4 separate regions of the Homo sapiens genome follow, and all the other regions are linked to region 1. The links come from fine-mapping of genetic effects on gene expression. A gene starts in region 1. Each other region holds a variant in brackets. All regions are shown on one strand. Distances are between the middles of the regions. Region 1 holds the start of RPL14 (ribosomal protein L14). Region 2 has its middle 25 kb from the start of EIF1B. Region 3 overlaps ENTPD3 (ectonucleoside triphosphate diphosphohydrolase 3). Region 4 has its middle 13 kb from the start of EIF1B.

Region 1 (6,323 bases):
GTTCAAGTGGCATGTTTTCAACTACCAGTACTTCAAAATCCATTATGTGTTAATACACGTCCCACAGTGCCTGTAGTGCTCAGCATACAGTAAGTTTTTTTTTTTTTTTTTTTTTTGAAACGGAGTCTCGCTCTGTCACCCAGGCTGGAGTGCAGTGTTGCGATCTCGGCTCACTGCAAGCTCCGCCTCCCGGGCTCACGCCATTCTCCTGCCTCAGCCTCTGAAGTAGCTGGGACTACAGGTGTCCGCCACCATGCCCGGAATATTTTTTTTTTGTATTTTTAGTAGAGACGGGGTTTCACCGTGTTAGCCAGGACGGTCTCCATCTCCTGACCTCGTGATCCACCCGCCTCGGCCTTCCAAAGTGCTGGGATTATAGGCGTGAGCCACCGCGCCCGGCCAACATACAGCAAGTTTTTGACTATTTTTTAAAGCATGCAAAATTACATGTTCCACTGCAACCATCATTGTGGGTTGAATTAACTGTATAGCAACACACTAAAGTGTTTTAATTTTCATGTCAAAAAAGAACTGCTATTCACTGCCTCACTTAAATGTAAGCTAGGGATAAAACCTCTTATATTAAATACTGTGTAACTGACACACACTGAGAGCTTATCTAATGATAGCTAGTAGCAATAAACACAAGACTTAGTATTGTTGTTTACTTTAAGCTAAAAATTTGGCAGAAACCAGAAGAAAAGAAGATGGCAAATCTAAACAAAGGCAAAGCCCTAAACTACCAGGATAGAAAAGTGACCTCAAGGCATTTATTTTATTTATTTATTTTTGAGACAGGGTCTCACTCTGTCATCCAGGCTGGAGTGCAGTGGCATGATCACGGCTCTCTGCAGCCTCGACCTCGCTAAAACGATCCTCCCAACTCAGCACCCCCAAGGCCCCCCTACCTGGGATTACAGGCGCGTGCCACCATGCCCAACGAATTTTTTTTTTATTTTTTGTAGAGATGGGGGTTTTCGCCATGTTGCCCATGCTGGTCTTGAAACTTGGGCTCAAGAGACCCTCCCACCGTGGCCTCCCAAAGTACTGGGATTACAGGCATGAGCTATCACGCGCAGGCAAGACATTTTAAAAGTAAATAATCCCTGTCTACTTCTATGATGCAAATCCCTCTTCAGGATGGCTCTGAATCTTCCGTATTGTTTACTCCAAAACAAACTTTTACTAGCATAAACAAATCTGGGGATGGGAGGGAGGAGTGATTAGTGGACAGTTACCTGTGCGGAAACTTGAGGATGAAATCAGTGAGCTGCATGCACTTGAAAGGCATGGCCTGTCTCCTCACTTGAGTGCAAGGTCCATCGACCAAAGCCTAGAACACAAACATCAAGAACTTCAGTGCAAAATCTAACAGCAATTAAAATGGTCAGATGGTTCTGTAACATTACTTATCCGTTCAGGGCCATCAAACCCACACTACTATTTTAATAAATTGCTCAGAAAAGACAAGGATTGTCCTATCTGGGTTATATATATGTATGTCTTTTGCTCAACACAAACATTTCTCCACATCATTAAATGCTCCTTCTTAAACTATATAGTACCCCATAGAAACCAACCACATGTAATTTACAGGCAACTTTAGGACTCTGATCCCTGCTGATTTATAGTCAGTGGTCAACTCCTTAGTTTGCTTGTTTCAAATACACAGCAGTAAATACAAAAGTGCTTTCTACGTGCTGGATCTGTTCTAAACTCACTTTACGTATAGTAACTCATTTAAAACTAACCAACGTTTCAGCCTATAACTGGCTCTAGCTTAAGTGGCTAATACTGAAATTCAATACTAATAGCTAACTTCAGGCTGTGCTTAAAACCCGTACCATTACCTGTTTCCTCAATGGTAAAATAAAGCGACTACCCATAGCATCCTCATCTTACACAGCCATCGAGACAATTCATTATTGCCATCTGCAGGGCACATGTCCACTGCCATGTTTAGTAAAAAGTTGTGACACTTACCCTGTTCTGATCAATAACATCTACAATCGCGACCAATTTTCCGGCATGAGGTCCAAAGGAGACATAGGCCACCCGGCCAACCTCCACGAAGCGCCTGAACACCTAAAATTGGAGGAGAAAGGACAGTGAAACTTACTTAGAAATACTCGCTACATATGTCACCTTCTGCAGCTAAAGACAACATGGTTAAATTCAGCGAAAAAGAATGCTGCAGGGAACAAACGCCCGAGAGCCAGGCGCCAACCTGGATGGACGAAATCAGCAAACGCCTCAGTAGCTTAAGCCCGGTTCCCAACGCCCGCCAGCTCCCAGGTCCGCAAGGCCCACACGGCAGGACAAGGCTCTCGGACCACGAGCCGCATCAGCCATCCAGCTCCAGCGGCGGAGGCGCGCACGCGTGGCCCAAGGCGCGCCAGGCCTGCCGGGCCCTCCACGCGCTCGCCAGCGGCGAGTCCGGGAAGGGCGCGAGTCCGGGAAGGGCCCGATTCCGCTGCACAGCCGGCCCGGGGACCCTCACCATGCGCTTCCCGGGACCCTCTGGGAGCCGTTTGGCGCCTCAGCTTCCCAGCGGAGGTGGAGGTCGAGCGGCATGGTCGACGGCCCCGGAGCCCGCAACAGTAAGACTCACCATGTTGGCGGCGTTAGGCGAGAAGGAAGAAGACCCGCCCAACCCTGCGCATGTGTAGAAGAACGCACCGCCCCTGCGGTAACGAGTCACCGACGTGAGCACCGATTGGTTGGTGCGTGCGTGCGTGCGTGCGTACGCACGCGCTCGCAAGCTCACTGGGAAAACATGGCGGAGTCGGCTGGCGTTAAGTTGCTTTTTGGCAAAGTTGGGCGGCGAGATTGTTTTTGGTGATTTGGATTAGAAAGCTGCAGGAGGGTCATCGCTTAGTAATTTAGGGTTAAGAGTACAGAAGCTATGTCTTCCGTTGGTCGCATGCCATTTGAGTTCCTTTTTATTTCCTCGAGTTTTATTTGTTGGTTATTCATGGCTAGGTCTGTTCGCTCCTCACGTTCTCTCCTAATCTCAGTAACTTTGTTAACCTTTCATTTTCAAGTAATTCACAGTTACAGAAATATTGCTAAACTAGTACAAATAATTCCCACAAACCCTTCTAGATTCCACAAATGTTAACGTTTTGCATGTGCTATATCATTTGAAAGGAAATTGCCGACATGATGTCCTTCTATCGCTACATTTTTTTTTTTTTAAAGACGGAGTCTCGGTCTGTTGCCCAGGTTGGAGTGCAGTGGCGGGGGCTTGGCTCACCGCAACCTCCGCCTCCCGGGTTCAAGTGATTCTCCAGCCTCAGCCTCCCAAGTAGCCGGGACTACAGGCGCGCGCCACCATGGCCGGCTAATTTTTTTGCATTTTTAGTAGAGACAGGGTTTCACTATGTTGGCCAGGCTGGTCTCGAACTCCTGACCTCGTGATCTGCCTCCCTCAGCTTCCTAAAGTGCTGGGATTACAGGCGTGAGCCGCCGTGCCTGGCGTTACATTCTTTTATAGAGACAGGGTCTCCCTCAGTCGCTCAGGCTGGAGTGCAGTGGCGCGATCATGGTTCCCTGCAGCCTCTAACTTCTGAGTGAAGACGATCCTCTCGTCTCGGCCTTCCAAAGTGTTGGGATTACCGGCGTGAGCCACCATGCCCAGCCTATCTATACGTTCTTAAAATGTGTATTTCCTAACAACAGAGAGATTCTCTTATGTCATCAGTACACTTATCAAAATCAGGAAATTGATATTGCAATAGTACTATTATCTAACCTTCAGTCCTTATTCAAATTTATAAGTTGTTGCTCCTATGTTCCTTGGAGCAAATGGGAAAAAAAATTGTTTTTCCAGGCTCTTGATCTAATGGAGGATTACAAATTGCAATTATTTATCAGGTCTCTAGTCTTTAACTGATAGTTTTAGATTTAACTGTTAAATTTGTAACATGGGTTTGTTGGAGTTTTCCTCATTGGATTCAGATAGTGAATTTTTGGTAGAAATGCTATGTCCTTGGTGCATCACATCAGAATACATTCTCTCTCTCTTCACTCTCTCTCTCTCTATATATATACGCACACACAAACACTTTTTTTTTTCTTTCTTTTTTTGAGATGGACTCTCCCTCTGTCACCCAGGCTGGAGTGCAGTGGTGCGATCTCGGCTCACTGCCACCTCTGCCTCCCAGGTTCAAGCAGTTCTCTGCCTCCCGGGTTCAAGCAGTTCTCTGCCTCATCCTCCCAAGTACCTGGGATTACAGGTGCCTGCCACCACGCCCGGCTAATTTTTGTGTTTTAAGTAGAGACAGGGTTTCACCATTTTGGCCAGGCTAGTCTTGAACTCCTGACCTTGTGATTCACTTGCCTCAGCCTCCCAGAAGTGCTAGGATTACAAACGTGAGCCACTGTGCTTGGCCACACACATATACATTTTTTCGAAGAGATGGGGTCTGGCTGTGTTGCCCAGGCTGGAGTGCAGTAGCTATTCACAGGTCTGATTGTAGCCTGCTACAGCCTTGAACTCATGGGCTCAAGCAGTTCTGCTTCAGCCTCCAGAATAGTTGGGACTACAGGAATACACCACCACACATGGGTTCCCAATATTGTGGTGGTATTTTATTCTTTAGATTTTTACCCAGGCCAGTGCAGAGAGGTGTTACCTTTTATCACTTGATTAAGGTGATGATCTTTGCCATGACAGTTCCCAGATGTATTTCAAGCCTTTCCTCTAAGCTCTATGCCAGCATATCTTCCCTGAGACTGCTCTAGCAGCCTCCTAAATTCTGTCTTTAATCTGTTCTCTGCTCAGCAGTTAGAGGGATCTTTTAAGTAAGTAAATCAGATCACATTATTTCCTGTTTTTAACAGTTCGATTGCTTTTCATAATATTTGGAATAAAATCTCAACTTCTTACTCTGGCCTTGTATCATATGCTTTAATACCCAGATACACCTTATGCCATCCCTCCTTCATTGTGTTGAAGCCACACTGGTCTTGAATGGGCCAAGCTCTCTCCTCCTCCATGACCTTTATACATGGTGTCTCTCTTGCCAGGAATGGTCTACCCATTGTTAATACTCATCGTGTAGCAGTGCCAACTTATCTCTTGTATTTTTTCCTAGATATTTTTCTGAGAGTTAACCAGGCTACCACATAAAAAAAGGTTAAGTCCCCACCCTTCTTTTTCTAGCTCACCTTGTTTCCCTCAGAGTTATCACAATTGCAATTGTTTGACTTGTTTTGCTGCCCACGTAGGTGTTGTTTCGTTCCAGTTAGAATAAGTTCCATGAGGGCAGGACCTTTGCTGTCTTTTCTGTTTTATTTTCTCACCTTAGTCTGGTAAGGGGCTCAATAAATAGGTAGTGAATGAATCAGTCTTTAGGTCTTGTTGTCTTGCTTTATAATTTACAAAGCAAAAGATATGAATGAAGAAGAATGTTCATTTTAGCATTTTTTTTGCTACTATCTCCAAACTGGAAATTACCCAAAGGCCCATAAACAAGAGACTGGATAAATTGTGATAACAATCTATAGCAACGGAGTCTACAGCAACTACATGGAACAATGCGGATGAATTTCATAAATAACACTAACAAATAAGCTGACACAATATATCCTGTATGCTTTTATTTATATCAAATTCAAAACAGGCAAAACTAATCTACAGTTCTTATAAGTAATGATCATATTTACCTTTGGTGCAGGCAGCAGTGGCTAAAGGGGAAAAGGGGAGCTTCTGAGCTGCTGGCCATGTTGTTTCTTCATCTGGTGTTAACTACGGGAGTGTGTTATTATTTTTGTTTTAAATTTTTTTAGAGACGGGTCTTGCTATGTTGCCCAGGCTGATCTGGTACTCCTGGCCTCAAGCCATTCTCCTGCCTAAGCCTCCCGAGTAGCTGGGATTAGGGGCACGGGCCACCCCGCCTGGCTGAAGTGTTTGCTTGTGAAAATTCAGAGCCCTATCCATATGGTTTATGCGTTTTCTCACCAAATGTATGTTAACCTAAAAAGTTTTTTTTTAATGCAGTTTCCTGGCTGTACAACCAGAGAACTTTATTTGCAGGTCTGGTGAGGGGCAAGAATCTGCATATAAAAACAAGCTCTCAAACACACTTTGAACTTCCCCGAACACAATTTGAGAAACACTTTGGGACTCCCCCTACAGTTACAGAATTATTTTCTAAAGTACATTATCTTGTTATATCACTCCTGTTTAAAGTTGATTTTTATCCCCTATCTTACAGGATATAGTCCAAACTCCCTAGTCTGGCATTCAAGGCACTCCAAAATCTTACTCCCAAACACCTTCCTAGCTTTTTTCTCCGACCATTCTGCGTCTCTCATTC
Region 2 (6,323 bases), 120 kb after region 1:
CTGTGGGAAAGTTCTAATACACATGTTTTGGTTAAAAAATATTAGAAACAACCTAAATGTTCATAAATGATGATGAATGGACAAACAAATTGTGGTATATCCATATAATGGAATATTATTCAGAAATAATAGGAGAAAGGAAGGATGTATACGTGCACAAAGTGGATAAACCTCAAAAGCCAGGCACAAAAGGTCACATATTGCATGATTCTATTTATATGAAATACCCAGAATAGATCAATTCATAGAGACAGAAAACAGATTGCTGGTTGCTAGGCACTGGAAGGAAGGGTATGGGGAGTAACTGCCTAATGGGTATGGGGTTTCCCTTTGGGGCAATGAAATGTTTTGAAACTAGATAGATGCAGTGGTTGTACAATATTGTGACTATTAAATGCCGCTGAACTGTTTCCTTTAAACGGCTCATGTTATGATATGTGAATTTTATCTCAACAAAAACAACAAATGACAAGAAAGGGTATCCCTACGTCTATTATCAACCCTCTTAAGGAGCACGGCAGGGACAGGTGTATTTCCTGGGCTTAGTGCTGCAGTTGGAGCTTCTATCCCAGGCGTCATCCAGTCTGGGTAGGAGGAGCCTCTGGTTTGTGGTGTGATCAACCTTGATAGCCCTCCTTGGATCCCTGTTCTGAGCAAAGCTGCCTGGCCCCATGGCCCACTACCAGCAGTTTCCATCTATTCCTTGCCCTGAACAACTCCCAACATGGTATCCACTAATTTGTTGCCAATCTCCAGAATCACAAGCCTCAAAAATTAACAAAGATGGGGTGGGGATGACAGTTCGAGGAAAAGAAATGTAAAGTCGTCAGAGGCCAGTGACTAAGAATAACTCACTGAATGCTTTCACACACTTTCATACACTAATTGTGAGAATGTAAATTGACTCAACAATTCTAGAAAGCAATTGAGCAATGTGTTTCCAAAGCCTTTAAAATGATCATATCCTTTGACCTAATTATTGCTCATCTATACATTTATTCTTAGGAAAGAGATGTTAATTAGACAAAGAATCAGCTACGTGGAGGTTCATTCAGTGTTATTTATAATAGCAGAAAATTAGAGACAATCTAAAGCCCCCCAAAAGGGCAATATTGTGATATATCCATGAAATGCAATACTGCTTTGGTTCTCTAGCAATGATCACTTACTATCTCTCACGGAATTTGTGATCAGGAACTTAGGCAGCAGGGAGTAAGGCCTATTTCTACTCTGTAATGCCTGGGGCTTTAAGTGGAAGACCTAAAGTCTGCTATCTTGGAAGACTTGTTTGCTCACGTGTTGGCAGATGCTGATATGAGCTAGAGGCCCAAGTGGGTCAGTCAGCTGGAACATTCACATATGGCCTTTCCATATAGACCTGACTTCCTCACAAATGTGGTTTGGTTCCAAAGGCAAAAAACAAAAAGTAAAAAACAGAGCCATGTTGTCTTTATGAACTAGCCTTGGAAGGCACACAGCATCACTTATGCCACATTCTATTGACTGTGGCAGTTACAAAAGTCTGGCCAGGTTCAAAGGGAGGAAACAGAGACCTCACTTCTTGATGGAAGCACGTGAATGTCACACTGTAAGAAGAGCATGTGGATGGCAGATATGTGGATGTGGGTATATTTGGAAAATACGGTGTGACTGTAACTAGTCATATCTTAAAACAATATCTAATGGTGTGGAAAAATGTCCATTATATGTTACAAAATTAAAAAGTCAGTTTACAAAGCAGTATGTATAGTATAAGCCCACTTTGAATGAAAAACATATAGTCACAAATACTAACAGTGGTTCTGTTAGGGAAACAGGAGCCCAGGAGAGCCACAGTAACATAATTTTAATATCAGCTCCCTCTTGGGACTAACAAGACACATTCCTTGTGGGTCATGACACATAGTCATAAGATATTCACCATTGAGGAAACAGTTTAAAGATACCTGCAAGGACACACTCCTACAACAATGGAAAGTCCAGATGTCCCAATACCCATGACCATATATGCTTTCAAGATAATTATGCTTTGATGTAATTGCACACTAAAATGTCAAGGATCGTTTTATTTTTTATTTTTCTTTCTTTCTCTTTTTTTAGAGACAGGGTCTCACTATATTGCCCAGGCTGGTCTCAAACTCCTGGGCTCAACCGATCCTCCTGCCTTGGCCTATCAAAGTGCTGGGATTATAGAAGGATAGTTTTCTTTAACTAAACAGAGTAATAAATTTTGCTATGCTGTCAGCCCACCTGCATGTAGACATACCTTAGCTTAGCTTTTACATAGACTAGACCCTATATAAGTAAAACTTCAAAAAAAAGACAAGGCAGTCTTCTTCTTGCTTTCTGAGGATGCCCTACTCTGTAACTGAGTAGCTTTCAATAAACTATCTCTTCTCACTGCACTCTGCGATGTGCCTTGAATTCCTTCTTGTGTGAGATCTAAGAACCCTCTCTTGGGGCCTGGAATCAATATCCCTTTTCCAGCAACAGTTCTTTCTAGGATGTGGAATAACAGGAAATGTTTAATTTCATCTTTATTATTTTCTATATTTTCCAACATTTCCAAAATAAACACATATTAATTTTATAATTAGATAATAAAATAAAAATAAAAATACCTAGTCAATTTTTTTTTTTGAGACAGAGTTTCACTCTGTTGCCCAGGCTGGAGTGCAGTGGTGCAATCTCGGCTCACTGCAACCGCCGCCTCTGGGATTCAAGCCATTCTCCTGCCTCAGCCTCCCAAGTAGCTGGGATTACAGGCATGTGCCATCATGCCTAGATAATTTTTATATTTTTAGTAGAGATGGGGTCTCACCATGTTGGCCAAGCTGGTCTTGAACTCCTGACCTCAAATGATTCACCTGCCTTGGCCTCCCAAAGTGCTGGGATTACGGGAGTGAGCTACCATGCCCGAAAATTTTTTTTTTTTTTTTT[A/TTA]ATGAGCTGCTCTGCCTTAGGATACTTTAGAGATTCTTTACCTTAGTGTGTCATGTATCTTCTGCCCCACATTTCAGAGAATGGTAGGCTTTCCTCATGTTGAAGGCCAATCCCACAGCTAGCCCGCCTGTTCTTGCCTTCGCTGAGGGACTTTACTCAATTGGTTACTCCCTGTCTCTCCACTGTCTTCATCCTGTTCTTTAATCCTTGATCTTGCCTCCTGGTTTAAAGGTATTTTTGAGTGCCCAAACTTTAAGAATTAAAATATTTATTTCACTTCAATATCTACTACTCTATCTCTGCTCTGGAAAGAATCATCTATACTGGCTTTCTCTATTTTCTCACTTCCAATTCTTTTCTCAGCTCTCCACAATATGCTTTCTGGCCTCACTACTCAATTTAAACTGCCCTGGGAAGGGTCAACAGTGGCTGCTGGATTATTAAATCCAGTGGAACCAGAGGTCACAAACTGGGGTCTGTGGGCATGCTCTTGTCCATGGATGGATTTCTCTTGGGCTTCATAGTGCTTTCAAATTTTTGAGTTGATTTCAACATTCAAAAATTGGGAAAGTCCATATAAAAATGCAGAATTCCAGCATCTCTTTAAAAATTGGAAGCTCTAACAATACTGGCCCCACCTTCTTGCATGGAAACAGCCTCTTGAGTAGACTAGTAGCTACCTCCCAAAGAGGATACCTGCTCTCCAGGGCCCCTTAGGCCCCACTTGGGTTTGGCCTTAGATATTTGATCACATTGGCTTTTGGCTTATGGATATTTGAGTTTTAGGCCTTCACGTTTATTAAAGTTAACTTGTGTCATTATCATCAAGGTTAAGACTAAAATTGTGTCTTCGTTAGTGTTCCTCCAAAAGCTGACACTGAGACTAGGATTGGGTGCAAGTAGTTTATCTGAAAAGTGATTCCTAAAAGCTTGGTGAGAGAGAAGGGAAGTGAGTCAGAGAAGAATGAAAGCCAATACAAGGTGAATTAATGAGCTGGAGGCTAGGGCAGTCACCTGGGGCTCCCTCCTGGGGGACCTTCTGAGAGACATTCTGAGAGAAGAAGTGGAACCAATAGTTGAGGAAGCTGGGGTGTTTGTCCACCAGCTCCTGTCCCTCATTGGAACCACTCCTGGAGCATTAACTCCCTGGCACTTCCGGGCAGTCCTGCTGACTTGCCGCACATGCCCACAGCCAGAGAATGGCCTGTCAGAGACATGCAGATGTGTAGGGTAGGAAGCTGTGGGCCTGTGGGAACTGTAGGTGACTGCCAGGTGCACAGTAGGCAGGGCCCTGACAATGTCTACAGAAAGCTGATTTCATCTCATTTCCCCATCATGCCTGGCACGGAGTTAGCACTTCATAAATGTGAGTGGTTGGAAGTTCTTGGTTTTCTTATGCTTCCCCTGATTACTTCTTATCGGAAATGAGATGAAGTTAAATGGGTAATTGTATAATCCTAGTTTGTTTGAGTCTCCCTGTGTAGTTGGGGCGGGGAGGGGAGGGGAGGAATTACTGAAATCATCCATTCTTTGCCTATAGGCAGATCACAGCTTTCCTTGAGAGCACTCTTGTTGGTTCCCTGAGTACAGTGTTGGATTTAATAGTCAGGAAAGTCTATTTTTACTTGGTGATGCCTCTGGGTGTTCTTCTGCAAGGTTCTGGCCTGGGTCCAAGTTGCTGTGGCACTGATTCCCAGCAGCATGTGGCCACAAGGATAAGGCATGAGTGAATTAAAGTTTAATTAAAGGTGAAACTCCAATATGGATGGAGCTGGCTGTCTCCTGCTGGGTAATTAGTGAGGCGAGGGTTTGAAAGGGCAGCACAAAGATCCCCGCTGATGTCAGACGCTCCTCCTAGGTATGTCCTCTTGGGCAGTTTTGTGGAACACCTTTTTTCCTCCCTGGCAGTAGAATAGAAAGATGTTGTAAACTAGTAGTAGAAACAAAGAACACCAATGTGGGTGGCCTGGGGTAGCAAATGCGAGTGGCTTCTCATAGGTTCATCATCAAATCGGTTACCATGACTTGCAGGCTCCTCCTCCTGAGCCCTTCAAGCAGCCATCTGGGAAAGACCAGGTGGAAAGGCGTTCTTGGGGACAGACCTAACTTTCATGGGTGTCAATGAGCGCTTTGTCCCGTGGTCTCCCTATTCTGGTGTACGTGTGAAGTGGAGGAGGGTCAATTTCTCAGCTTCTGTCCCCTTCAGGGGGTGTACTCAGAGCTGCGTGTTAGACTTCCCTGACCATTTTATCCAGAGCAGAACCAGGCTCCAAGGACCCCAGGAAATGGAGTGCGCGGACCTTCACAGTAATATCAGCAGTGCTAACAATAACTATACCGACGAAGTTCAGCAAGCACTCACTGTGCAGAGTGCAAGCTCAGGCAGTCATGCATCATCACACTCACTCATTCACTCCTCCCCGCAACACCGCAGCTCTGCCGGCACTTGCATCTTCCTTTTCACTCTCCAGGCCTAGTGCTCTCACAAGGCCAGCTGAAACAAATCTCTGGCGTGCTCATTGCTCTGCTCTCCTCAGGGTCCCTCATGATCCCTCCTTTCAGACAGCTGCAGCTCCTACCACCAACGGCTGGATTATTTTCTTATTTCCCATCTCAAATTTCTGAAAGCAAGAACATCCCAGTCTGCTGGGACCTGAGACTTATGCAGTTTTAGAGACCCCCTTTAAGAAAGGAATAAAAGCATATGAATGAATGCAATACTAGGCTCAGGGGCAAGGAGGAGGCCTGGACAGGCGAGGCACCAGAAAGTCCCAGTGTGTTTGTTTCAGGGTGAGTCGGCCTCTGCTAGAGTCTAATAATACGTTTTTATTCTGGTGGTTGGGGTGGAGTGGGGTGACAAGCCATGGTACCAAACCCAGTTATTAAAAGCTGGTGCATTTGAGCATGGTCCCTGTCTCTGATGTTCTCCTCTCAACCACGCAAGGAGGCCCGGTCTTCCAGAGTGGACTCAGCCACCTCACCATTTCATGTGTATTCATCCAGAAACTGGGCTTGGGAGAAACTTCCCTGGGGCCTTGGGCTAAGAAGCACGCACTCCATGGAGTTCTGCAGGCAAAGGTGCAGACATGAGGTAGGGAATCGTCAGTGGTCATTTGGTGTCCCATACATTCCTTGTTCCTTGTGTGTACAGCTCCCTTAAAGATGTTATGGAGATAAGGGATGGCTGGACCCAGCCAAGTTGGGGGCATTTGTAGGGTTCATGGACCCAGGCCAAATTGTTATCTTAAAACTACTGAAATCTTTCCATGGTTCCTAACACCCATCTCTGATTATTTCCCTAGCATAGGTGCCTGAATGTGAAAAGATATGAACATTTTAAGGAGCTTGACATAAAATTTCATTTGCATGAAATTCATTCAAAT
Region 3 (6,323 bases), 49 kb after region 1:
TCCCAGGTTCAAGTGATTCTCCTGCCTCAGTTTCATGAGTAGCTGGAATTACAGGCGTGCACCACCACGCCTGGCTAATTTTTGGTTTTTTTATAGAGACACGGTTTCACCATGTTGTCCAGGCTGGTCTCGAACTCCTGACCTCAGGTGATCCACCTGCCTCGACCTCCCACAGTGCTGGGATTACAGGCATGAGCCACCATGCCTTGCCAAAAAAATAATTTCTTAATATCATTAACTATCCAGTCATGGTTCCCATTGCCTCCATATTCGTTCTCATTCTCATCCTCTGTGTCTCTTTCTCTTCCTACTCCTCCTCTTCATCCCTCCTTCTTCCTTCATCCATCACCCTCTTCTCATTTGTATGAGTCAGGATCCCAATAAATTCGGTACAGTGCAATCTTAAGTCTCTTTCTGTCTATTAGTTCTGCCTTCCCTTTCTATTTTTCTCCTAATTATTAAAAATTTTACTTGCAATTTCTTCGTCCTGAAGAATTTCCACAGTCTAGAGTTTGTCGATTGTACCCTCATAGTTCAATTAACATCTTACTTGGTCCCTTGTATTTCTATAAATGGTTAACTGAATGTAGAGGCTTGATCAGATCAGGTTTGAAATTTAAAAAAAATATATAGGGATTAGTGTGGACTTACAATAGGAGGCACAGTATCTGGTTGTTTCTCTTTTTGTGCTGTTATCATCAATGATAATGGTTTAGCTCCATTATTTCATTAGGGGTTGCAAATAGTGATATCTTTTTCTCTTTTTTTTTTTTTTTCTGAGATGGAGTCTCACTGTGTCACCCAGACTGCAGTGCAGTTGGTGTGATCTCGGCTCACTACAACCTCTGTCTGCCAGATTCAAGCGATTCTTGTGCCTCAGCCTCCGAAGTAGCTGGGATTACAGGCACGTGCCACCGTGCCTGGCTAATTTTTGTATTTTTTGTAGAGACAGAGTTTTGCCATGTTGGCCAGGCTGGTCTCGAACTCCTGGCCTCAAGTGATCCACCCGCTTCAGCCTCCCAAAGTGCTGGGATTACAGGTGTGAGACACCATGACTGGCCTGTTGCATTTTACTTTTGAGTTTTAGGAATTACTTTTTAAAAAACGATTTTGTTTTATAGTTACTAAAATAATTAAGTAGTTCTAAAATTAGATCTACAAAACTAGGTATATTCAGAGACATCTAGATTCTCTCCTTGTCTCCTCTTCCTGTAAGTAGTTTCTTTTTTAAAAAAAGTTTAACCAATGTTTGTTTAAAATAAGCAAATATATATTTTTAATCACCCCAACTTTTAGATAAATGGTAATTTACTATATATACTTTTCTCCACTTTTTTTTTCTTTGCATTCAACAATACTTCCTAGTGGCCACTCCATAGCAGTATATAAATATTCTTCATTTCTTTTTACAGTTGCATTGCATGCCATTGCATGAACATAACTTAATTTGTTCTCCCAGTCCAGGCTCTGAGTTTAAATAAGTCTACTTTAAGGAAGACAAAGTATAGGACAGACAAGGAAGATGGAGAGAATATGGTCCCTCTGGAAACTTCCTTCTTTGGAATTGATAGAGCCACTGCCTCCTTCAGCTGCCCTTTCTTAACCTTTCCCACCCATCTTCCAACTACCACAAACCAATAAAAAAACCTGAGCATTGTAATTACAAGTTTTGCTTGGATGTGTCCATTAAGATGCACAGACGTGGATTTCATCGACAGTGCTAGAGAAGCAAGGACAGGCTTTCTCAACCTTGGCCAAGGACAGAGCCTCTAATGTAATTTTCCCTCCTGGGGCAATGACCTCCTACAACAGACAAATGACAGCACCATAAGCCGTGGGCTTGATGAACTCAGTGGCTTGATCTCAGGAGTTCAGAACTGAAGTAGCTGTAAGAAACACTAATAACAATAACAACAATTAAATAAATATATATGTTTATATACGTATGTATATATAATTTTTTTTTTAGACGGAGTTTTTGCTCTTGTTGTCCAGGCTGGAGTGCAATGGCATGATCTCGGCTCACTACAGCCTCCGCCTCCCAGGTTCAAGTGATTCTCCTGCCTCAGCCTCCCGAGTAGCTGGGACTACAGGTATGCACCAACAGACCCGGCTAATTTTGTATTTTTAGTAGAGATGGGGTTTCACCATGTTGGCCAGGCTGGTCTCAAACTCCTGACTTCAGCTGATCCACTTGGCCTCCCAAAGTGCTGGGATTACAGGAGTGAGCCACTGCACCCAGCCTGTATGAATAATTTTTAATATAAAAATATATTAATCCTAAAAAAAGAAAAATGTTCCCCTCTGGTGGGAAGGATTATGGATGATCTTACTTCCTTTTCTACTTTTAAATAAAGATGGGGTCTTGCTATGTTGCCCAGGCTGGTCTCAAACTCCTAGGCTCAAGTGATCCTTCTGCCTTAGCCTCCTGAGTAGCTGGGAATATAGGTGCACACCATTGTGCCTGGTTCCATTTTATTTACCTGTGTTTTCTGATTTTCACACAATGAAAATATATTATTTTGTAATTAGAAAGTTATTTTTAAAAAGACACACAATTCTCTCAGTAAATAAAATGTGAGATTAAGCTCTCAGGCATATTCCTATGAGATAGGTTAGTTAACAGGTTTTTCTCTCCAAAATGCCAATAAAGCCAACAAAAACAACAAAACTATGCTGAACATCACAGGTCAGTGCTCACATTAGTCTTAATTCTTTACTGTGAAACTAGTGAAATGAATCCCCATATACTGATCATTCAGCTTCAACAGTTAATCAATACACAGCCCATCTTATTTTCATTTATATGCTTTCTTTTTTCCATCTCTAGGAATTATTGTAAAGAAAATCCCAGGCATTATGTTAATTCATCTACAAACACTTTAGTATATGTTTTTAAGAGGGAAGAACTCTGAAAAATATAACCATGATACCTAAGAAAAAAATCACTCCTAAAAAAGTTCTTAATATTATTAAAGACCTGTCAGTGTTCAAATTTCCCAGAATAACTTTTTCTTTATAGTGTGATGCAGAAACCAAAGTCCATACCTTGTATGTGCATTTGGATGTTTTTTAAGATTCTCATTCTGTAACAGTTTTCCTGCCCCCCTTTTATCTTGCCATTTATTTATTAAAGAAATCATTTTAATGGAGTAGGTCTCTTATTTTGGATTTCGCTGATTGGATCCGTGAGGTGTCCTTGAACATGTTCCTTTGTCTTCTGTGTTTTTTATAAACTGGGAGTTAATTTCTAGAAATGTGATCAGATTCAGATTTGATTTTTTGGCAAGAGCACTTCCTAGGTGTGCTAGGTTTTTCCTAGTGTACATCACCGCACTGGGGGCATATCATGTCTGTCT[G/A]ACTTCTTAGATTATAAGCTCCCCATCACTTTTCACCTAATTGCGCACTTCCTCTTTCTTCAACTACCTTGGATTTGGGTTCTGACCTTCTTCTCCCCTCACTGGCTGTCATTCCTCCTAAGTTCTTTTGCTGGATCCTCTTCCTCTCCCCAACCTCTCAGTACTGGAGTGTGTAAGGCTAAGTCCTCAGATCTCTTTTCTTCAGTATCTATTCACTCCTTAGATGAGCTGGGGCTGGATATCGTCTGTATTCTGATGACACTCAGCTTTATTTCTTCATCCTCCCCCTCCCCCGAACTCCCGACTTGCCTATCTGACAACTCCACATCACTGTATAGATCAGGAATGAGCAAGCTATTTGACCCCATACCTGTTTTTGTATGGATTGCAAGTGAAGAATAATTTTTATATTTTCAAGTAGTTGGAAAAAAATAAAATGAAGAACAGCATTTCATGACATATGAAAATTATAAGAAATTAAAATGTCAGTGTCCACAAGTAAAGTTTTTTTTTTTTGAAATGCAAACATGCTAATTCATCTACCTGTTGTCTATGGCTGTTTTCATGCTAAAGGGGCAGAGTTGAGCAGTTACGACAGAGACCATATGACCCACAAGTCTAAAATATTTATCGTGTAGCTCTTTACAGAAAAAGTTTGCCTCCCCTGACTCAGATGATTTATAGCCATCTCCAACTTAATATGCCCAAAACCAAACTCTTTAAGCTTTGCCCTGCCCCCAATATGCTCCACTCCCAGTGTTCCCCAATCTCAGTAAATGGTGTTGTGATGCACACAGTTGCTCATATCCAAACTCTTGCTCATGCATTATGAACTCAGATGCCTCACATCAAGTCCATCATAAAATCATGTTGGTCCTACCTTCAAAATACCTCGCAAATCTAAGCACTTCTCACCCCCTTCCCCAGAACCATCGTAAACCAAGGTTTCTTAACCTTGGTGCTACTGACATTTTGGGGTAGATAATTCTTTGTTGTGGAGGCTGTTCTGTGCATTGTACAATGCTTAGAACATTGTAGAATGGCAAGGGAAAAGGCCAAGTGTGGAAGCTGCTCAGCATTTTCTAGGAAAAGCCAAGGGGCCAGTGTGGCTGGAAGAAAGATGAGAAATGTCTTCTATACACTAGATGCTAGTAGCACCACGGACCCAGTCATGACAATCGAAAAGATCTCCAGACATTGCAAAATGTTTCCCGGGAGACAAATTCACCTTGTGTTGAGAAGCACTAGTCAAGGGCAAATTGACCATCACCTAATCTCTCACCCGTACTGATTTAACAGCACTTAACTGGTGTCCTTGCTTCCAATCTTAGCCCCTGACTACGTGTTCTATATCAACTGAGTGATCCGTTAAAAACAGAAGTCATATCGTATTAGTTCCCTAGTTAGAATCTTCTAATGGCTTCCCAATATACTTTGAAGAAACTTCATTTGTGTCACAGTCAAACCCTTAGGACACCTCAAGTCCCTCCAAGGAGCAGGCCTTGGCTCTAGCTTCAGTCTCATTTCTCATCTTTCTTCCAGCCACACTGGCCCCTTGGCTTTTCCTGGAAAATGCTGAGCAGCTTCCATGCTTGGCCTTTTCCCTTGCCATGCCTCTGCTCAGCATGTTCTTCCCCCACACATTTACATGGCCCATTGTCTCATATCACTTTTGTCTCTGCCTAGCTGTCATATTCTTCATACTTCCCTGACAATCCTGTTCAAAACAGCATGATCACTCTCTTTTTCCTGCCCTGCCTGATTTCTCTTCACATCATGTCTGCCTGACACTCGTTATATGCCCGTTTATTTTTTTGTCTATCTTCCTCATTGGAATGCAAGTCTCATAACACATAACCACAGATTTTGTATATATTGTTTATTTCTGAATTCCTGGTGCCAAGAACAGTTCGTATCAAACAGCAGGCACCTAATACATATTTATTAAATCAATCAATCAATGAGACTTTCAAACCACTATACATCTCTGTAGTAAGGAGATTGGCTAGTCCAATCTGGGATAAACAAAATATAATCTGCAAGGAGCTGGTCTCTGGTTAGCGGCTGGTGAGAGGCGAGATAGAATGGTGAAACCTTGGGAGTATGTCACCAGACAGCCTGTTTGCATAAGGTCCATTAAGCCTTCTAGAGGGAAAAGGAGATAGGATTCACAGGCTTCTAAGCTGCTTGGACTTGGATACTTGGTCCCATGAGAGGAGCACTGAAATTGCTATTTCAATATGGGGAGAGAGGGTTAAACAGACGGCACAAAACTTACTTGAGGGGAAACAGAAGCCAAAGACACGCACCTCAGCTTGAGCTCCGGCCAACTATTGGCAAATGATTTTTTTTTTTTGAAATGAAGTCTCGCTCTGTCACCCAGGCTGGAGTGCAGTGGCATGATTTCCACTCACTGCAACTTCTGCCTTCTGGGTTCAAGCAATTCTCCTGCCTCAGCCTCCCGAGAAGCTGGGATTATAGGCGCCCACCACCAAGCCCGGCTAATTTTTGTATTCTTAGTAGAGATGGAGTTTCATCATGTTGGCCAGGCTGGTCTCAAACTCTTTGCCTCAGGTGATCCACCCGCCTCACCTCCCAAAGTGCTGGGATTACAGGCATGAGCCACTGCACCCAGAGGCAAAGGATGTTTTTTTAATACTATGGTGGCCTGGTTTCTGATGCAACTCTTTGAGGGATTTTAATGGAGGAGATAGTTAAGTTTAGGCTCTAGTGGAGCTTAAGTAATTTTTAGTCACTGGTTTAAAGGAAAGACATTATGAATGTCCCTTGTGGGGAAAGGCAGCAGCAGGCATGAGTACTGCAGATGAGATGAGACGCATGCAGAGAACCCAGCACCTCCAGGAGGTGGCTTCACCACAAGCAGCCAGAGGTACAGACACCAGCACAGAAACCGCCAGCAAAGGCAATGAACTCATGGAAAACAGTAGCAACTGGGGGTTGATA
Region 4 (6,323 bases), 130 kb after region 1:
CTCAGGTCTCTCTCTGGCATGCTTTGGAAATGTCTCTCTAAATAGGCTTTTATCCACTGTTACTGGGCTAACCTACTTTTAGGGGCTTCAGGTTAAAACCTGAGGCCAACTGTGGTGCTGCAAATACTATTTTAATTGGAATGAGCTGCTTAATCAAAAGTTCTTGGTTCAGTGTGTGGTTCCTTCAAGTGCCATGATTCCTGTGTCACATTAAATCCAGGGTCAGAAAACTGTGGATCTCAGACTAAATTCTGTCCTACCTATTGTTTTCATGTGGTCCAAAAAGTATAGTTAACTATAGTTAAGAAAGGAATTATCCCCCATTTAAAAATGGTTAGTGAAAAAAAATCAAAAGGTGAATAGTATTTTGTGACATCTGAAAATTATATAAAATTGCAATTTTAGTGTCTATAAATAAAGTTTTATTGGAACACAGCCACATTCATTCATTTATATACTCTATGGCAGTTTCTTGCTTCAATGGCAGAGTTGAGTATTTGCAGCAGAGATCATACAACCTGTGAGCCTAAAATATTTACTATTAATATTTACAGAAAAAGTTTGTGTTAAAGTATCATTACAGAACTTTATTTTATTTTATTTTTTCCTATTCAACTTTTATTTTGGATTCAGGGGGTACAAGTGCAGGTTTGTGACCTGGGTATACTGTGTGATGCTGAAGTTTGGGGTACAAATAATTCTGTCACTCAGGTGCTGAGCACAGTACCCAACAGTTAGTTTTTTGACCCTTGCCCTTCTCCCTTCCTCCCTACTCTAGTAGTCCCCAGTGTCTATTGCTGCCATCGTTATGCCATGAGTACCTGATGTTTAGCTCCCACTTATAAGTGAGAACATGTGGTATTTGGTTTTCTGTTCCTGCTTTAATTTTCTTAGGATAATGGCCTCCAGCTGCATCCATGTTGTTGCAAAGGACATGATTTCATTCTTTTATATGGCTCCATAGTATTCCATGGTGTATATATGCCACATTTTCTTTATCCAATCCACTGTTGATGGGCACCTAGGTTGATTCCATGACTTTGCTATTGTGAATAGTGCTGCAGTGAACATGTGAGTGTATGTGTCTTTTCGGTAGAATGATTTGCTTGCTTTTGAATGAACATACAGTAATGGGATTGCTGAGTCAAATGGTAGTTCTGTTTTAAATCTCCAAACTGCTTTCCACAGTAGTTAAACTAATTTACATTCCCACCAACAGTATTATAAGTGTTCCCGTTTCTCCACAGCCTCACCAACATCTGCTGTTTTTTGACTTTTTAATAATGGCCATTGTGACTGCGGTGGGATGGTATCTCATTGTGGTTTTGATTTGCATTTCTCTTATGATTAGTGACGTTGAGCATTTTGTCATGTTTGTTGGCCACTTGTATGTCTTCTTTTGAAAAGTGTCTTCTCATGTCTTTTGCCCATTTTTTAATGCAGTTCTTTGTTGTTGTTGTTTTTTGCGTGTTTAATTATTTAAGTTTCTTATAGATTCTGGATATTAGACCTTTGCTGGGTGCATAGTTTGCAAATATTTTCTTCCATTCTGTAGGTTGTCTTGTCTGTTTACTCTGCTAACAGTTTCCTCTGCTGTGCAGAAGCTCTTTACCTCTCATTTGTCAATTTTTTTTGTTGTTGCAATTGCTTTTGAGGACTTTGTCATAAATTCTTTCCTAAGGCCCATGTCCAGCGTGGTATTTCCTAGGCTTTCTTCTAGGATTCTTATACTAATTTAGATTTAATAGAAACCCATAGCAAGAAAAACAAGAAAAAGAAAACATTTTCAAAATAAATGTTGTTTACGTTTACATATTTTTAAATTCTCTCTCTTTTCCTAGCAGAGGAAAACCCAATCATTGTGAGACTGCAAACACCCGGGGAGCTTACTTGGGTTTTATCGTGGAGCTGCTCTGCCCTCAGGCATTTGGGGAGAAGGACTCTGGCTCAGGCTGGGATTTTAGGAGCCAGGTTGAGTGACATAGTTGGGCTAGGTAGTTTATAGCGTTGGTATAAAGATGAGATTGGGATACCATGAGCTGGGAAGATGGCTAGGGCATTCAGTCACTCCTGATTCAAGACCTCCCGACAAGGTTCCTGAGAAAAACCTATGTACAGGACACAGCCTCAGATGAGAGGCAAAATGATACTTTGTAACTAGCTGAACTGGAAGAGACATGGACAAGCCAAAACAATCTTGGAAAAGAACAGTTAGAGGACTCACATTCCCAATTTCAAACTCACTACAAAGTTGCAGTAATTAAGACAGTGTGGTTTTGGCATAAAGATACATAAACAGATCAATGAAATAGAATTGCAAGTCCAGAAATAAACTCTCATCTACGGCCAATTGATTTTCAATAAGGGTGCCAGGATGATCCAATGGGCGAAAGACTAGTGTTTTTAACAAATGGTGCTGGAATAACTGGTTATCTACATGTACAAGCATGAATTTGGATTCCTACCTTATACCAATACACAAAAGTTAATTGAGACTGGACCAAAGACTTAAATGTAAGACCTAAAACTACATTCCTAGAAGAAAACACGTGAATGAGGAATGACTGCTAATGGGTACAACGTTTCTTTGGGGGGTGATGAAAATATTCCACAACTGATTGTAATGATGTTGTACAACTTTAGGAATATACTAAAACCACACTGGACTGTACACTTTAAATAGCTGAATTTTTTGCTAGGTGAATTATATCTCAATAAAGCTGTTTAAAAAGACCTTGTGGCAGTGGCCTAGATGGATCTGGGTTGATCAGCCTGATACTTTTCTGTGAGGCGTGGTGGCTTGGACAGTGGAAGAAAAAGCCATCTGGACCATCTGCACAGTGCTGGATGCCATTGACCAGATGTGGATGCCTGTAATGAGGACTTGGAACGAGTGCCACTATGGGGTTCTAATTGGCCTTAATAAAGCAGAAGCTGCTGCCAAGCATGAGGAGGCCTTGGTAAAGATCTGGAAGTGCTCCTATGATGTCTCATCACCTCTGATGGAGCCCAACCATCCCGTCTAAGGCAACACCAGTGAGAATGATCAGCTACCCTCCTGTGAAAGTCTGAAGGACACTACTGCCATAGCTCTGCCCTTTTAGAAAGAAGAGATAGTCTCCTAGATCAAGGAGGGGAAATGGGTGCTGATTGCAGCTGATGGCAACAGTTTTCGGGGCATTGTTGAGCATCTGGAGGGTGTCTCTGAAGAGGCTTCATGCAGCTGGACCTGCCAGCTGGTATTCCCATTGTCTATAGATTGGACAAGAACTTGAAGCCCACCAAGCCCATGTAGTTCCCGGGGGGGGATGAAGAGACTGTGCATAAAGCCATGGAAGCTATGGCTATTGGGAGCAAGGTCAAGAAATAAAGGCCAGCAGATAGATTACTGTCCCAAGGAATGCCCTCTCTGCCCATCCCTTCCTCTGCACTTCTGCATATGTCACACTGACCATAGTCATTTTTTTTTTTTTTTTT[TTG/G]AGACGGGGTCTCGCTTTGTCAGCCAGGCTGGAGTGCAGTGTCACAATCTCAGCTGACTGCAACCTCCACCTCTGAGGTTCAAGTGATCCTCCCGCTTCAGTTTCCCGAGTAGCTGGGACAGTAGGAATATGCCACCATGCCTAGCTAATTTTTGTATTTTTAGTAGAGATGAAGTTTCACCATGTTGGCCAGACTGGTCTCAAACTCCTGACCTCATGTGATCCACCCATCTCAGCCTCCCAAAGTGCTGAGATTACAGCTGTGAGCCACCGTGCCCAGCCGTAGTCATCTTAAGTTGTAGCTGCAGATGGGGGACCAGTGGCTTCCATTTTCCTTTCAGCCATTGTATCTCCTACACCCACTCCCTTCATACAGCTGGATTGGAATAGCGTCTCTGGGGCATGGGTTCTCAGTCCACACTGAGGGAAGGCTTCTCTTAGCCAAGAGAGTTCAGTGGTAGTAACTCTAGGTTTTGCCAGGGCTATGTTTACTAGGGACCAGCTTGAGAAGGGGAGAGGGAGGAACCATGCTAAGGCATGACCAATGAAGAAGCAAGAAGCAATGAAGCAAGAGTGCCTATTTGACCCCAGGAGCCAGTCCTGTGCCCTTCTGTGGTTAGGTCACTGACTTGGGCGGTGGGGTTAGTCATTTCAGTGGAAGATAAATGTAACCTACATAGTAATGTTAAAAAAAATCAACTATTTCCTCCCTGACACCACAGAAGCTGGCTTTAGAAGGTTGGGATCAATCTTCAATTAAGTTTATGTGTTGCATTCACACATATTTATATATATAATATCTATATATAAAATATAGATATAATATATATAATTTTTATCTATATAAAATACAGATATTATATATAATTGCAACACATATGTGTACATATATGTTTGTAAAAGTAAATGCAACACAAACTTAACACATAATTCAACACAGAAACTTAAATTTTGTCTATATATGTATGTGTGTGCATATATTTGTGTGTATGTGTATGTATATACACACTATATATATACATATATATTATATACATACACACACACACACACACACACACATACACATACACACAACCACTTTGGGGTTTCTAGTGGCAGTTGAAATAGTTAGTCCCATGTATGGTCATCAGAAAGTAAGCCAATCCTCACACCAACATGGGATACGCCTTTTGACTTCTAAGGGTAGAAGTGCATTCTGCTGTATATTTTAGAATCCCTCCCCTGCCTTGTTTTGTGGCAGTGAAATGCCCCTTGAGCATGTCCAAATGTGTCTTTCACTGTGCCTGATTTCTTAATCGTGTTCTACTTGCTTTGCCCTGTCACATGGTCCCAGCATTCTTTTTCAGAATAACTGTACTACATTTTTTTCTAGTTTAGTATAACAAAGGAGTGATATGCAATAAAAAAGTCAAGATGATAAATTTTATGTTATGTATATTTTACCATATTATTTTTTCAGAGACAGGGTCTCACTCTGTCACCCAGGCTGGAGTGTAGTGGTGTGATAATAGCTTACTGCAGTTTCAAACCCCTGGGCTCAAGTAATCCTCCTGCCTCAGCTTCCCCATAGCTGGGACTACAGGTGTGTGTCACTATGCTTGGCTAATTTTTAAATTTTTTTATAGAGACGAGGTCTTGCTTTGTTGCCCAGGCTGGCCTAGAACTCCTGGCTATAAGCCATCTTCTTGCCTCTGCCTTACAAAGTACTGGGATTACAGGTGTGAGCCACTGCACCCAGCTTATTTGACCAATTAACCTTATTTTTTGTCCCAGTCACAACATATCTTTCTGGGTTTCTTTGATAACCTATATAGTTTTGCCTTTCACAATTAGGTCTTTAATCCATTGTAATCCATTAGTGTTTGTGGTATGGAGTAGGGACCCAGCTTTTTCTTTATTGAGCCAAATTTCCTAACACCTTCAACTAAATAATCCATCCTTTTCCCCATGGATACTTCTTGCATATGTAGAATGATGTGATAAGAAGATAACTAAGTCTCAGCCAGCATCTGGGCAAGCTAGGCCACTAGGAAAATATCAGCAAAGGGCAAAGGGGCCTAGAACCCAAGTCTTTCCAAGGCCCTGGTAGAATATGTCCCTTCCAGGCATTCATTTTTCCAGCTTCCTTTCTCCTGGAACTGAATTCCCTTCTTCTTCCCCTACTCCAGGGGAGAAGCATGAAATAAAGAGTAAGGAAAGGGCTTACCAGAAATAATTATGTTCAAGCAATCCTATTACAAATATCTATTCTCTTCCCACCTCAGATACACAGGCTCCAAATATCTTCAAAATGGAAAATGACCCACAGATACGTTACGTATAATAGATAAGTCTGGAATTTCCCAAAGGGTGAGTGGTGGTCACAGGGAGGGAGATTTACTCATTTGTTCAACAAATATTTATTGAGCACCTATTGTATTTCATACCCCGATCTAAACTGGATTGGGAGGTACAAAGGTATCTTAAGTTGGGTTCCTCCAGAAGGCTATGATAAGGATGTAAGTGCTGGTAGTTTATTTGGGAGGTGATCTCAGAAAGCATAGGTGGAGGTATGGGAAAATGAGACAGAGAAGGGAAGGGAAGGGAGCCAATAAATGATACTTTATTGACAGGTTACTGTTATTGGCAACTGAGGTCCAATCTTGCTGGGAAATCCTGGGAGTCAGTATAGACCATGCTTCCATGCTTTTCTTACCTGAGGGTAAGTGAGCTGGGATAATTATATAGCTATTTCCACCTGCCATTGATTGAAGGTTGCTAGTGTGAGGGGTGCAGGGGGCAGGTGTTAACTCCTTGGTATTTCCATCCTGCCCCAGTCTCAAGTATTTCCATCCCTTGCAT

Evidence for each region. PIP is the estimated chance that this variant, and not a neighbour inherited with it, causes the effect.
Region 2: its variant is fine-mapped to the expression of RPL14 in monocytes (Quach 2016, PIP 0.93).
Region 3: its variant is fine-mapped to the expression of RPL14 in aorta (GTEx, PIP 0.97).
Region 4: its variant is fine-mapped to the expression of RPL14 in whole blood (INTERVAL, PIP above 0.99).

What each region holds. Positions count from the first base shown.
Region 1 is chr3:40,453,652-40,459,974 of GRCh38, reverse strand. It overlaps RPL14 (ribosomal protein L14), which reads right to left and starts at 2,636. Exons shown (of 6, transcript NM_001034996.3): 1 at 2,501-2,636; 2 at 1,984-2,085; 3 at 1,239-1,333. The coding sequence starts at 2,503. RefSeq lists silencers at 843-1,137, 2,351-2,400 and an enhancer at 2,543-2,837.
Region 2 is chr3:40,331,903-40,338,225 of GRCh38, reverse strand. No RefSeq gene overlaps it. Among named protein-coding and RNA genes, the nearest start is that of EIF1B, 25 kb to the right of the region's middle. RefSeq lists an enhancer at 514-563. The variant A/TTA (reference allele first, on the strand shown) is at 2,941.
Region 3 is chr3:40,404,897-40,411,219 of GRCh38, reverse strand. The region is part of intron 4 of ENTPD3 (ectonucleoside triphosphate diphosphohydrolase 3); the gene reads right to left. All of the region lies in intron 2 of ENTPD3-AS1 (ENTPD3, EIF1B and MYRIP antisense RNA 1), which reads left to right. Among named protein-coding and RNA genes, the nearest start is that of ENTPD3, 21 kb to the right of the region's middle. The variant G/A (reference allele first, on the strand shown) is at 3,360.
Region 4 is chr3:40,319,762-40,326,084 of GRCh38, reverse strand. It overlaps the pseudogene PGAM1P3. Among named protein-coding and RNA genes, the nearest start is that of EIF1B, 13 kb to the right of the region's middle. The variant TTG/G (reference allele first, on the strand shown) is at 3,478.